Regions from separate parts of the Homo sapiens genome. Here all the other regions are linked to region 1. Evidence: fine-mapped expression QTL. A gene starts in region 1. Each other region holds a variant in brackets. All regions are shown on one strand. Distances are between the middles of the regions.

Region 1 (4,162 bases):
GTTACACCCCTGTCGTCCCAGATGCTTGGGAGGCGAGTTTCAGGCCAGCCTGGGTAGTATAACCAAACCCCTCTAACAAAAAGGGTTTTTAGGCCGGGCGCAGTGGCTCACGCCTGTAATCCCAGCACTTTGGGAGGTGGAGGCTGGTGGATCACTTGAGGTCAGGAGTTCAAGACCAGCCTGGCCAACATGGTGAAATCCCGTCTCTACTAAAAATACAAAAATTAGCCGGGTGTGTGTGTGTGTGTGGGGGGGGGCGCCTGTAGTCCCAGGTACTCAGGAGGCTTGGAGGGCGCCTGTAGTCCCAGGTACTCAGGAGGCTTGAGGCAGGAGAATTGCTTGAACCCGGGAGGCAGAGGATGCAGTGAGCCGAGACTGCACCACTGCACTCTTAGCCTGGGTGATAGAGCGAGACTACGTCTCAAAACAACAACAACAAGGATTTTTAGTAGGTATGTAACCAACTGATTTTTAAAATGATCACAGTACCTACTGTGGAGAATGAATTAGTGTCTCCTAATCGCTTTTTAAATTTTATTTTTCGTTTTACTCTTATTCACTTTTTTTTTTTTTTTTTGAGACAGAGTCTCGCTCTTGTCCCCCAGACTGGAGTGCAGTGGCAAGATCTCGGCTCGCTGCAACCTCCGTCTCCCGGGTTCAACTGATTCTCCTGCCTCAGCCTCCTAGGTAGCTGGGATTACAGGTGCACTCCACCACGCCCAGCTAATCAGCTTCCGTTTCTCGGGTTCAAGCGATTCTCCTGCCTCAGCCTCCCTAGTAGCTGGGATTACAGGCAGGGAGTTTTATATTTAAAAAAAAAATTGATATCTGTCTCACCAACCGTATTGCAACCAAGTCTGTTAGTTTCCTGAAGAGAAATTTGGTGCTGCAGGTTCCAGAAGCAGCTCTTTATGCCCTCACTGCTGATCAAACTATTTTTTAAAAACGCTCCTATCATACACCACGCTGCCTAAAGACAGGGTACAGGCCTGGGATTTTTGAAAGAAAAGGGTTTCTTCAATTACCATTTCCCAGTTTGGGATGAAGAGACGTAAAGAAGCCCTCTAATAAGGAAATTACGCCGGGCCTCACTGTTAATAGTACAGTATTTATCAGCAGCTGCCGCGGTTAAGAGGAAGCCACGGCCCCCTGTAGTCTGTACCTCCTAAGATGGATGATTTAGCTTGCGATCTGTTCAAGATGGCCACAGAAACACTTCCGGTATCTTTCCGCACTAGGCCCGCCCCAATTTGCGTGTTTTTACCGTGCAGAGGGAGGGATTTAGAGTTAGCCTTTGATTGGTCAGCTTGACTGGCGACCTTTCCCCTCTGCGACAGTTTCCCGAGGTACCTAGTGTCTGAGCGGCACAGACGAGATCTCGATCGAAGGCGAGATGGCGGACGTGCTAGATCTTCACGAGGCTGGGGGCGAAGATTTCGCCATGGATGAGGATGGGGACGGTGAGGACAGTGGAGACGGCTGGTGGGAAGCGGGGAAGGTGCGAGAGAAGGCTATAATAGGAAAATTTACTCTTTTTTCCTCGGTCGTAAGGATGGGAATCGAGGAACCGGGTCTTGGGTGGATTAGAGATTCCGCCCCCTTCAGGAGAAGGGAGGGCGTGACCGGGAAGGCACTAAGACTGGAGGCGGTGTGGGTCGGCTTGCTGGTAGTGTATTGGGAAAGAGACGATTGTTACAAATGACTGTCATAGTTACTTATTCTTTTATCTTCTGGGGTTCCAGAGAGCATTCACAAACTGAAAGAAAAAGCGAAGAAACGGAAGGGTCGCGGCTTTGGCTCCGGTGAGTGTGGGGAAAATGGGGTAGAGTGGCCTAGTAGGGCAGGAGCTACGGGTTTTGGAGTCCCCACCCACCTCATAGGAACAATGGGAGAAAGGAGGAGTTTTCGGTGATCTCGTGTATGTCCCTTATAGAAGAGGGGTCCCGAGCGCGGATGCGTGAGGATTATGACAGCGTGGAGCAGGATGGCGATGAACCCGGACCACAACGCTGTGAGTAATAATGGAACCTGTGAGGTATCCGTGTCTGTGGTAGTAGTTAGAAACCAATAAAATAGTTAAACGCAGTAGGAATGGGTTCAGAGATAGCTTAAACAATCTGAGTCCGCACTCACTCTATTCCTGTGAGCCTGCTTAAAGTGTCTCTCATGTACTCATACAACTTCCCCCCGTCCCCCAACAGCTGTTGAAGGCTGGATTCTCTTTGTAACTGGAGTCCATGAGGAAGCCACCGAAGAAGACATACACGACAAATTCGCAGAATATGGGGAAATTAAAAACATTCATCTCAACCTCGACAGGCGAACAGGATATCTGAAGGTATCCTAAGTGACACTTTATTGCCTCCTTTCTTTCATAAGCCTTAGGTAGCATTCGTAGTTCTGTGTTTGCTGTGGTTGGCCAAGAGCAAAGTTGAAATAAAATGACATTGGAAATCTATGTTTTGTCAGACACGCCAAAGAGACAGAAACGGAGATGATGTATATATACAGTAGAGATATATGATGTACATTCATTGTTTAAAGTGTGTAGATTTTTCTGAGTTTAGATTTGAGGAAAAAGATACTCAGTGATACTTGGGGAAATAGGAGGGTTTTCATATCTGTCTTTTCACTTTCCCCAGGGGTATACTCTAGTTGAATATGAAACATACAAGGAAGCCCAGGCTGCTATGGAGGGACTCAATGGCCAGGATTTGATGGGACAGCCCATCAGCGTTGACTGGTGTTTTGTTCGGGGTCCACCAAAAGGCAAGAGGAGGTAAAATGAAGAGGGCAAATACTGTCTGGGTGAAGGGAATACGAACGAAACAGAATGAGGACTTAGTATTATGTCCCTCTAATGGACTCCTCTCCCTGCTTCTTTTTCCCTAGAGGTGGCCGAAGACGCAGCAGAAGTCCAGACCGGAGACGTCGCTGACAGGTCCTCTGTTGTCCAGGTGTTCTCTTCAAGATTCCATTTGACCATGCAGCCTTGGACAAATAGGACTGGGGTGGAACTTGCTGTGTTTATATTTAATCTCTTACCGTATATGCGTAGTATTTGAGTTGCGAATAAATGTTCCATTTTTGTTTTCTACATTTAATGTTACTTTCCTGTCCTAAAATTGAAAGTTCTAAAGCATAGCAAGGCTGTATGGATCATTGTGAAGATACTTCTAGGGACTGAACTCTATGTATTTCTTTTTTTTCTTTTTTTTGAGATAGAGTCTTGCTGTGTTACCCAGGGTGGATTGCAGCTGATCATAGCTCACTGCAGCTTCAAACTCTTGGGCTCAAGCCATCCTTCTGCCTCACTGTCCCTAGTAGTTGGGATTACAGGCACATGCCACCATGCCCAGCTAAATTTTTAATATTTTTGTAGAGATGGGGTCTTGCTGTGTTACCTGGGCTAGTTATGTGAGTTTCTATATTAGACATAGTCTCAAGTTTCAGGTAGGGTTTAAAGTAGAGACACTGGTCAGTATTTCTTTTTTGGGGGGAACTAGGAGAGCAGGAGTAGAAGTGAGATGTTAAGATCTTATGGCACTAAAGACTTACTATTCTGTTCCTACATACTCTGTTAGGATCAGATAGATGTTATAGAAATGCCTTTTGTTTCTCCTGCCCTTCTTGATGTCACAGTTTTTTGTACTTCCAGCTGTCTAAAGGCATGAATCTCCTCTTGGAGCATTCTCCCAGACCCTTCTTTAGAAGAGTCTATACTAAGTTCTTGGTGCCCTCTTCGGCAGCCAAGGGTGAAGGCCCCATAGAGGAGAGGATCCAAAGGAGCATTGAGGAGGCCCAAGAGGAAAAGGATGTGGCTCAGGCTGGGAGGGACTTCAGTTAGCATGGTGGGGGAGAACCAGTACCACATACCCAGTAGGTAATAAGGTGTCCAGCAGAGGATGAAGGTCAGCAAGATAAGCAGGGCCAGTCTCAGGGCCCGGAGACGAACACGGGGACAATTGTCAAAGGAGCGGGGGAGGGCAAATTCACCAGCAGGGGCTAGGAATTTAGAAAATATACTGTAATTCAGACACTCAGCTTCTGATCTGAGTATAGGGTGAATTGATGGAGGGGCATAGCTAGTGAGACAGAGCTCGCCTCCTACAAGGAGGAGAATGTTGCAAACCGTTTTCCCCTTCCCAACCTGGGACTATAT
Region 2 (4,162 bases), 64 kb before region 1:
CTAGGGTTAAGCCAAAAGACAAAAAAAATTTTACTACTTTTGAGATTGCCCCAATGTACAGAATTATATAATTCTAACGCTTAAATCATGTGAAAGGGTTGCTGCTGTCAGCCTTGCCCACTGTGACTTCAAACCCAAGGAGGAACTCTTGATCAAGATGCCCAACCCTGTGATCAGAACCTCCAAATACTGCCATGAGAAACTAGAGGGCAGGTCTTCATAAAAGCCCTTTGAACCCCCTTCCTGCCCTGTGTTAGGAGATAGGGATATTGGCCCCTCACTGCAGCTGCCAGCACTTGGTCAGTCACTCTCAGCCATAGCACTTTGTTCACTGTCCTGTGTCAGAGCACTGAGCTCCACCCTTTTCTGAGAGTTATTACAGCCAGAAAGTGTGGGCTGAAGATGGTTGGTTTCATGTTTTTGTATTATGTATCTTTTTGTATGGTAAAGACTATATTTTGTACTTAACCAGATATATTTTTACCCCAGATGGGGATATTCTTTGTAAAAAATGAAAATAAAGTTTTTTTAATGGAAAAAAAAATGTCTGTGAGATGGCTTTGGAAAAGTTTTTGGAAAGAAGGTGTGTCTAAAGGAGTTTTCCTCTACTTAACAATCCACACTAATGAAAACCTTGTGGAGAAAACACTCCCTATGGACCCTAAGGAATGTCGGCAGAGTGGGGGCTAGAAGGTGAAGAGGGAAACCGTTTGAGGCATGTTTCAGATTCACTGAACAACTATACTGGGATTTTCCGGTTGTCTAAACTAGTTTTCCAAATCCATAGGTAATCATTACTAAATTCCTTCAGTTTTGGAGTTCATGGGTTCTTGAAATACAGGGAGATGATGTTTATGAGGGCATTTGAAAGAAAAGAGTGGCGGTTCCTTTTTTTGAGACAGTCTCACTCACCCAGGCTGGAGTGTAGTATGATCTTAGCTCACTGCAGCCTTGATTTCCTGGGCTCAAGTGATCTTCCCATCTCCGCCTCCCACATAGCTGGGCTACAGGCATACACAACTACGTTCAGTTAATTGTGTGTGCGTGTGTGTGTGTGTATGTGTTTGTTTTTTCTACGCTCAGCTAATTTTTTGATTATTTGTAGAGTTCGGGTTTTGCCATGTTGTCCAGGTTGGCCTCAAACTTCTGGGCTCAAGTGATCTGCTGGCCCTGGCCTCCCAAAGAGTTGGGAATACAGGCGTGAGACACCACACTCAGCTGAAGATCCCCTTTTTACAATATGGTTTTATCATAGGGTTTCTTCCCAATGTAAACTTGATTTATATACTAACAAGGATAACTTCAGGACTTAAGAGGTTATAGAGTTATGAGTATTAAATTCTTTGGAGGCAGCTAACCATTTTTTATTTTCACAGTTCCTAACCAAGCACATAACTCAGTAAATGTTTGCTAACTATTCAACTTCACCCTCATCCCTTAGATGATTTGATGGTTCCTATTCCTTGTAGGGTAATAGTAGTAGAGTAATACCACAATCCCATGTTTAATTGGTGTGATTTTCTTTCTTTCTTTCTTTCTTTCTTTTTTTTGAGATAGAGTCTTGCTCTGTCTCCCAGGCTAGAGTGCAGTGGCCCAATCTTGGCTTAATACAATGTCCGCCTCCCAGGTTCAAGCGATTCTGCTACCTCAGACTCTTGAGTAGTTGGGATTACAGGCATGAGCCACCACACTCAGCTAATTTTTGTATTTTTAGTAGAGACGGGGTTTCACCATGTTGGCCAGGCTGGTCTCGAACTCCTGACTTCCCGTGATTCACCCGCCTCAGCCTCCTAAAGTGCTGGGATTACAGGTGTGAGCCATGGCGCCCAGCAGTGATTTTCATTCCTAAAGAACCGACAGGTGGAGAAACCCTGGGATGGCCAATTTAAATATTTGCACAGATCTGGTCCTGGTCCTTATTTGGGAATTGATTTTTCTGAGGACTTCCACAAACTAATTCCAAATAACAGGCTCCTGGAAATTCTACATGAAATCAGTGTGGGGTGTTGTAGCTCTAGCTACTCACAAGGCTGAGGCAAGAGGATCATTCAAGCCCAGAAGTTCTAGGTTACAGTGAGCTATGATTGCACCACTTGCACTCCAGCCTGGGGGACAGATTTTGTCTCAAAAATAAATAAATAATAAGCAAACTAAAATCAATGTGAATTTAACAGAAAGTGAGATTTAAAAGATCCTTTTCCATTTCAATCCTCATTTTTCGTTTATCTTTCATTTTCCATAGCACTCTCCTCCCTCTCTTTGTCTCTCTTTCATTACCAAAGTGTCAGTCTCTATTTCTCCCTATTGCCAGGGTGACTTTCACCTGAACTCTCCGCCCCTTTCTCACCTGTGCAAGAATTTAGTGGCTCCTCTCCTTCAAATCTGTGACCAGGAAATTAGGTCAAAGTTGATGGAAAAGTTTTTTCTGTAGCTTGTTTTCCAGGGCCTAGAGGGGTGAAGCAA[T/G]GATAAGAGCAGGCCAGAGAGCAGGACAAAGGAATGGAGAGACCATGGAGTACATGAGCCTGGTTGTGTGCACAGTTGGGCTACCAGTACCCAATATGAGAAGAGGGATGGCTTCGAAAGGATAGATAACTTTATACCCAAGGCCTCTTAGAGATCTGATCCTAGGGCCAGGCGCGGTGGCTTACGCCTGTAATTGCAGCTACTCGGGAGGCTGAGGAAGGAGAATCACTTGAACCCAGGAGGTGGAGGTTGCAGTGAGCCCAGACTGCACCACTGCACTCCAGCCTGGGCGACAGAGCAAGACTGTCTCCAAAAAAAAAAAGAGATCTGATCCTGGAAGGGCCAGAACATGGGCATCTCCTCCGGATACCCTTAATATCCTTTATCCAGCTGTCCAAATAGAACTTTCTATGATGATGGAAATTTTCAATACAGTAGCCACTAGCCCTGAAATGTGGCTACTATGACTGATAAACTGATTTTTTTTCTTATCTTTTTTTTTTTTTTTTTAGATAGGGTCTCATTCTGTCTCCCAGGCTGGAGTGCAGTGGCACAATCTTGGCTCACTGCAGTTTTGACCTCCCAAGCTCAGGTGATTCTCCCACCTCAGCCTCCCAAGTAGCTAGAACTACAGGCACATGCCACCATGCCCAGCTAATTTTTTCTATTTTTTGTAGAGACAGGGTTTCACCATGTTGCCCAGGCTGGTCTTGAACTCCTAGGCTCAAGCAATCTGCCCACTTCAGCCTCCCAAAGTGCTGTGCACACATTTTTTTTTTTTTTTTAAACAGGGTCTTGCTCTGTCTCCCAGGCTGGAGTGCAGTGGCATGATCTCTGCTCACTGCAGCCTCCACCTCTCAGGGTCAAGTGATTTCCCATCTCAGCCCCCTAGTAGCTGGAACTACAGGTGCATGGCACCAAGCCCGACTAATTTTTGTATTTTTCATAGAGATGAAGTTTTGCCATGTTGCCCAGGCTGGTCTCAAAACTCCTGGGCTCAAGCGATCCTCCCACCTCAGCCTCCCAAAGTGCTAGGATTACAGGTGTGAGCCACTGTGCCCAGCCTGTAACTGAATTTTTAATTTTGTTTAATTATTTATTTATTATTATTATTATTTTTTGAGATGGAGTTTCTCTCTTGTTGCCCAGGCTGGAGTGCAATGGCGTGATCTCGGCTCACTGCAACCTCCACCTCCTGGGTTCAGCGATTCTCCTGCCTCAGCCTCCCAAGTAGCTGGGATTACAGGCATGCGTTACCACACCTGGCTAATTTTGTATTTTTAGTAGAGATGGGGTTTCTCCATGTTGGTCAGGCTGGTCTTGAACTCCCGACCTCAGGTGATCTGCCCATCTCAGCCTCCCAAAGTGCTGGGATTACTGTGCCCGGCCCAATTTTGTTCAATTCAATTAAACTTTAGCTTTCTGTGACTAGTGACTGTCACATATGTGACTAGTGACTAGTGACTAGTGACTGCCATATTGAATACCACATCAAAATCTAAGGGAGTAAGCAGCTAGAGCTGTTCCCCCAGAGGAAACCTATCCTTCTCTTACAGCACAAAAACTCCACTCTACTTCTTTTTGCCTTGTGTATACAACTTCTACCTCACCCGAGGACATTTTCCGCGTACAGGCTTGCTTCAGTACACTTCCTTGGGGAGTGGCTTAGCTATTTCCCCACTTAAGTGGGGGAATATTC
Region 3 (4,162 bases), 46 kb after region 1:
AGACCAGCCTGGGCAATGCAGTGATACCTCATCTCTAAAAAAAAAAATTACCTGGGTGTGGTAGAGCATGCCTGTAGTCCCAGCTACTCAGAAGACTGAGGTGGGAGGATCACCTGAGCCCAGAGGTCAAGGCTGCAGTGAGCCATGATCATGCCACTGCACTTCAGCCTGGGCAACAAAGCAAGACTCTGTCTCAAAAAAAAAAAAAAAAAAGGAAAGAAAGAAAAAGAAAAAAGAAATAAAAAGAAGTGGAAAGGGCCAGGCGCGGTGGCTCACGCTTGTAATCCCAGCACTTTGGGAGGCCGAGGAGGGCAGATCACGAGGTCAGGAGATTGAGACCATCCTGGCTAACATGGTGAAACCCTGTCTCTACTAAAAATACAAAAAATTATCCGGGTGTGGTGGCGGGCGCCTGTAGTCCCAGCTACTCGGGAGGCTGAGGCAGGAGAATGGCGTGAACCTGGGAGGTGGAGGTTGCAGTGAGCCGAGACCACGCCACTGCACTCCAGCCTGGGCGACAGAGCAAGACTCTGTCTCAAAAAAAAAAAAAAAAAAAAAAAGAAGGGGAAAGAAAAGTATCTATATTGCTAAGAAGCATCTTTACCATCTGTACAGCTTGGCTGTTATTCGCTGGCTAGTATCAGCAAGATCCCTTCCACTCTCCTGGCTGGAGAATTCTGAGCCCAGGAACATCTAAAATGTGCTCAGGAAGGATGGATTGTGCATCTACTATGTGACAGACACCGAGCTAGATGCCTTATAGGTTGTTATAGTATTAGGAAACTGAGGTTCAGAGATGTTGTTACATGCCTAAATTCACAGAGGCAGACAGTGTTAGAGTCAAGACTTGAAACATTTCGAGAACTGCAGGTTGACGTCAGCTGATGGCAGCACCCTGTCGTGGGGCATAGTTCTAGCTCTCTGCTTTCCTGGGGGTGACCTGGTCTCCAAAGGCCATTAGAAAATGCGTTCTTACATGTCAGAGTCTGTTAGTATGTGAAGGAGTCATTTTGCTTATTTTGTCCTTTGAGAGTTAACCTGTTTGGAGACTCCATGAGACAGTAGAGTCTGAGGGTGGGTGGCTTTGCCCTGGAGGCAACTTGAGACTGTTTATCTGGAAATAAGTAAACCTGTTTCTATAGCTTGTAGTAGTGTGGTCTGGTGGGGAGAGCTAGGATTTGGCATCAGGTGGACTGGGTTCTTTTTTTGTTTGTTTGTTTGTTTGAGATGGAGTCTTGCTCTTGTCACCCAGACTGGAGTGCAATGGTGCAATCTCAGCTCACTGCAACCTCCACTTCCCAGGTTCAAGCAATTCTCCTGCCTCAGTCTCCTGTAGCTGGGATTACAGGCACCGGCCACCACCCCCAGCTAATTTTTTGTATTTTTAGTAGAGACGGGGTTTCACCATGTTGGCCAAGCTGGTCTTGAACTCCTGACCTCAGGTGATCCACCCGTCTTGGCCTCCCAAAGTGCTGGGATTGCAGGCGTGAACCACCGCACCCAGCCATGGCCTGGATTCTAATTCCAATTTTGCCACTCTTTTTCGTGATCTTGAATGGTTATCTAATCTTGGTATACTTCTGTTTCTTCTGTCAAAGAGATGGAATAATAGCCCTAGCTACTTTCCAGGGATGTTGAGAGACTAATTGAAATAGCATGTGAAAGGACTGTGAGAAGTTACAACTTCTGTACAGGAGTATTACCTCAGAATCCATCTACCTTAGATAATTTTATGGTTTGGATATTTAGAGCTTTCCTGTGGTTGATTAATAATTTGCCCTGGCTACGTAAACAGTGTTTGAAAATGAGTTACTGGGCTTCCACAGACCCTATTTTTCTTCACCCCTTTCTATAGCCTCTTGTTGAGATTATACCTTATAAAA[T/C]GCTATGTGCCACCACCAACACCCCACTACTTCCTGTTTTGTTACAAGGATGCCATATATTTGTATGGCTCTTTACAGTTTATAAAGAGATTTTGTATATATTAGCTTGTTTAATAGTCACAGCATGATGAGGTAGTTGTTATTAGCCGTATTTTATAGAAGAGGAAACAGGTTAAAGGTGTTTAATGGCTTACTTTAGGTCACATAGCCGAGAATGTAGCTGAACTAGGTCCCAAACTCAGGCCAGCCAGCGAAATATTTGTCTGGCAGCCTTTACATCAGACCACAGATCTTTGCATCTGTCTCTTCCTTTTCATTCCCTTCTCTGGACAAAACCAGGCTTTTCTGTACTTTCAGCCCTGGGTGTTTTTACATAGCTGTCTCTTTTATGCCCTATAACACTTCAATTATTATAATTACCCTACCACCCACAAAACCCAAGCTGGAATGATAGAACAATGCATGCCCAGGTGTGGCTGTTGTCTAGACAGCTGCTCCCTGCCAGGGAAACTGGGAGGGAGGAGAAGGGGAGCTACCTCTTGCTGCTTCCTCAAACATAACTAGAAACCTCTTTGCCTTTTGGTTGTTGTTGCCATGGAAAGGAGAGAGACGGTCGCCAAAGGGCCTAGATATGATATGGGAAAACAGAAACTCTAGTTTCCTCTTTTAACTGTGGGGCCCAAAGCCAATGAAAAGAGGTGGAATGGTTAGGTATTGGAACTCCTAGCTGTAACCTGAAGCTCGGTGCCTTAATGTACTTCTCAAACAACTGACAACAAAAAGCAGAGCAGCAGGGTTTCAGGGGTGGAGGCGGTGGTGAGAGGCAACATGAGTCCTCAAAAGTGGTCACGTTGGTTCCATTTGCTCCAGCAAGACCTAGAGAGCAAAAGGGAAAGGATTGCTCTGAGGTTGGGCACTGAACAACAACTCTAATCATGATGACAAAAGGACATTTGAAATACTGTGCATTCAGCACTCAAATGATTTTTAATTCAGTGGTCCAGGGTCCTTCTGGCTCAGGGCTGGAAATAACCAGCAATAGTTCTTGGTGGCATATTAGCTGGTTAAGATTTAGCTAGGCCCACCTAAGAAGGACTAAATGATCTAGGATGTGTGACTTGTGGAAGAGAAAAAGGGATGTTCCTTTTCTCTCATTTGGCATCCTAACCATTTGCCTCTTTTCTTTCTCCACACTACCCTCATGCCCTATATTCACACAACCTGTGGCTCTGGACCAGGTGGAGAGATGGAACCGCCATGATCAGAAGCTGCTGGAGGCAGTGCACAGGGGGGATGTGGGACGCGTGGCTGCCCTGGCCTCCAGGAAATCTGCCCGACCCACCAAGCTTGACTCGAATGGCCAGTCCCCGTAAGTCAGTCCTCCTGCCCCTGCCCCTTACATGTGGCTCCCTTTTGAAGCCCCCAAATCCAATATAACATAGGACCAGGGAATGCCTACAACTTCAGAGCTCTTTTCATTGTCTTAATTAGCAAGTATATCAATAGTTTTTTGCTACATATAAGTTCTACACAAAGTGAGGAAAGAAAATATTGTTCCTGAGCTCCATCCATTGCACAACCCAGATTGACACCACTGACTTGTAAAGTACATAAAGCCCATTAAACAAACAGAAAATGAATATATACACTAAGTAGAGTGTTTCTTCATTGCACAAGTAGGAGGGTGTGTATGCATGGGAAATTTGAAATGAAGTGGTAGCATGGGAGTCACATGGCTAGAGGGAGTAGTGATTAAGTCAAAGGAAATGTTATCCCTTGTCTCTACCCAAAGCCTTCGAATGTCCAGCCTTCACTCTGCTCTGGCTGACTCTTTCTGTGACACTTCCACTTCCGCTAAGGTTCTGTGCTCAGAGAGGCAGGTAATTATGTGTTCCCTAGACACCCCTGCAATAGTCTGAGATTCCTTGAGACCTGTAGCTCTTATTTCTTCCTTGCTTTTAGCATCCTTTGTGATTGGAGGCCATATAGACTTCTCTTTCTCAGAAATTCAAGCTAGGGGAGCTTCTTTTCCTGCTTTTAGGATTGGCTTTGGGGTAGGGAGCATAGCAAGAAGGGCTTATCAAGATTCTCCCATTCCTCATCCCTGGTCCCTTTATCCTTTGGCCTCTCGGCCTTGATTCTGGCAGGTTTCATCTGGCAGCCTCCAAAGGCCTGACAGAATGTCTGACTATCCTGCTTGCAAATGGGGCTGACATCAACAGCAAGAATGAGGATGGTGAGTGAGCCGGAGCACTGGGCCACGCTGCTTGCTTGCCCCT

Alleles and levels. Positions count from the first base shown, and alleles are read on the strand shown. Sizes are in standard deviations (SD) of each study's normalised expression. Not every link is listed here.
As copies of C replace T in region 3, the expression in lymphoblastoid cells of the gene that starts at base 1,989 in region 1 goes up (small effect, 0.35 SD a copy in GEUVADIS).

The links. PIP is the estimated chance that this variant, and not a neighbour inherited with it, causes the effect.
Region 2: its variant is the best candidate, but not a certain one, in a credible set for the expression of LIX1L-AS1 in T cells (TOPMed, PIP 0.61).
Region 3: its variant is the best candidate, but not a certain one, in a credible set for the expression of LIX1L-AS1 in lymphoblastoid cells (GEUVADIS, PIP 0.59).

What each region holds. Positions count from the first base shown.
Region 1 is chr1:145,924,658-145,928,819 of GRCh38, reverse strand. LIX1L-AS1 (LIX1L antisense RNA 1) reads right to left here and starts at 1,989. Exons shown (of 3, transcript NR_147182.1): 1 at 1,874-1,989; 2 at 1,351-1,756. It overlaps RBM8A (RNA binding motif protein 8A), which reads left to right and starts at 1,336. Exons shown (of 6, transcript NM_005105.5): 1 at 1,336-1,460; 2 at 1,743-1,802; 3 at 1,934-2,011; 4 at 2,202-2,338; 5 at 2,643-2,779; 6 at 2,893-4,162. The coding sequence starts at 1,394. The coding sequence ends at 2,938. It also overlaps the pseudogene GNRHR2. RefSeq lists enhancers at 1,080-1,229, 1,470-1,519, 1,322-2,261, 1,201-2,400.
Region 2 is chr1:145,988,817-145,992,978 of GRCh38, reverse strand. TXNIP (thioredoxin interacting protein) reads left to right here. Exons shown (of 8, transcript NM_006472.6): 8 at 1-544. Among named protein-coding and RNA genes, the nearest start is that of TXNIP, 5.7 kb to the left of the region's middle. RefSeq lists an enhancer at 192-271. The variant T/G (reference allele first, on the strand shown) is at 2,464.
Region 3 is chr1:145,878,348-145,882,509 of GRCh38, reverse strand. It overlaps ANKRD35 (ankyrin repeat domain 35), which reads left to right. Exons shown (of 14, transcript NM_144698.5): 2 at 3,122-3,252; 3 at 4,031-4,119. Among named protein-coding and RNA genes, the nearest start is that of ANKRD35, 5.4 kb to the left of the region's middle. RefSeq lists an enhancer at 3,679-4,162. The variant T/C (reference allele first, on the strand shown) is at 1,884.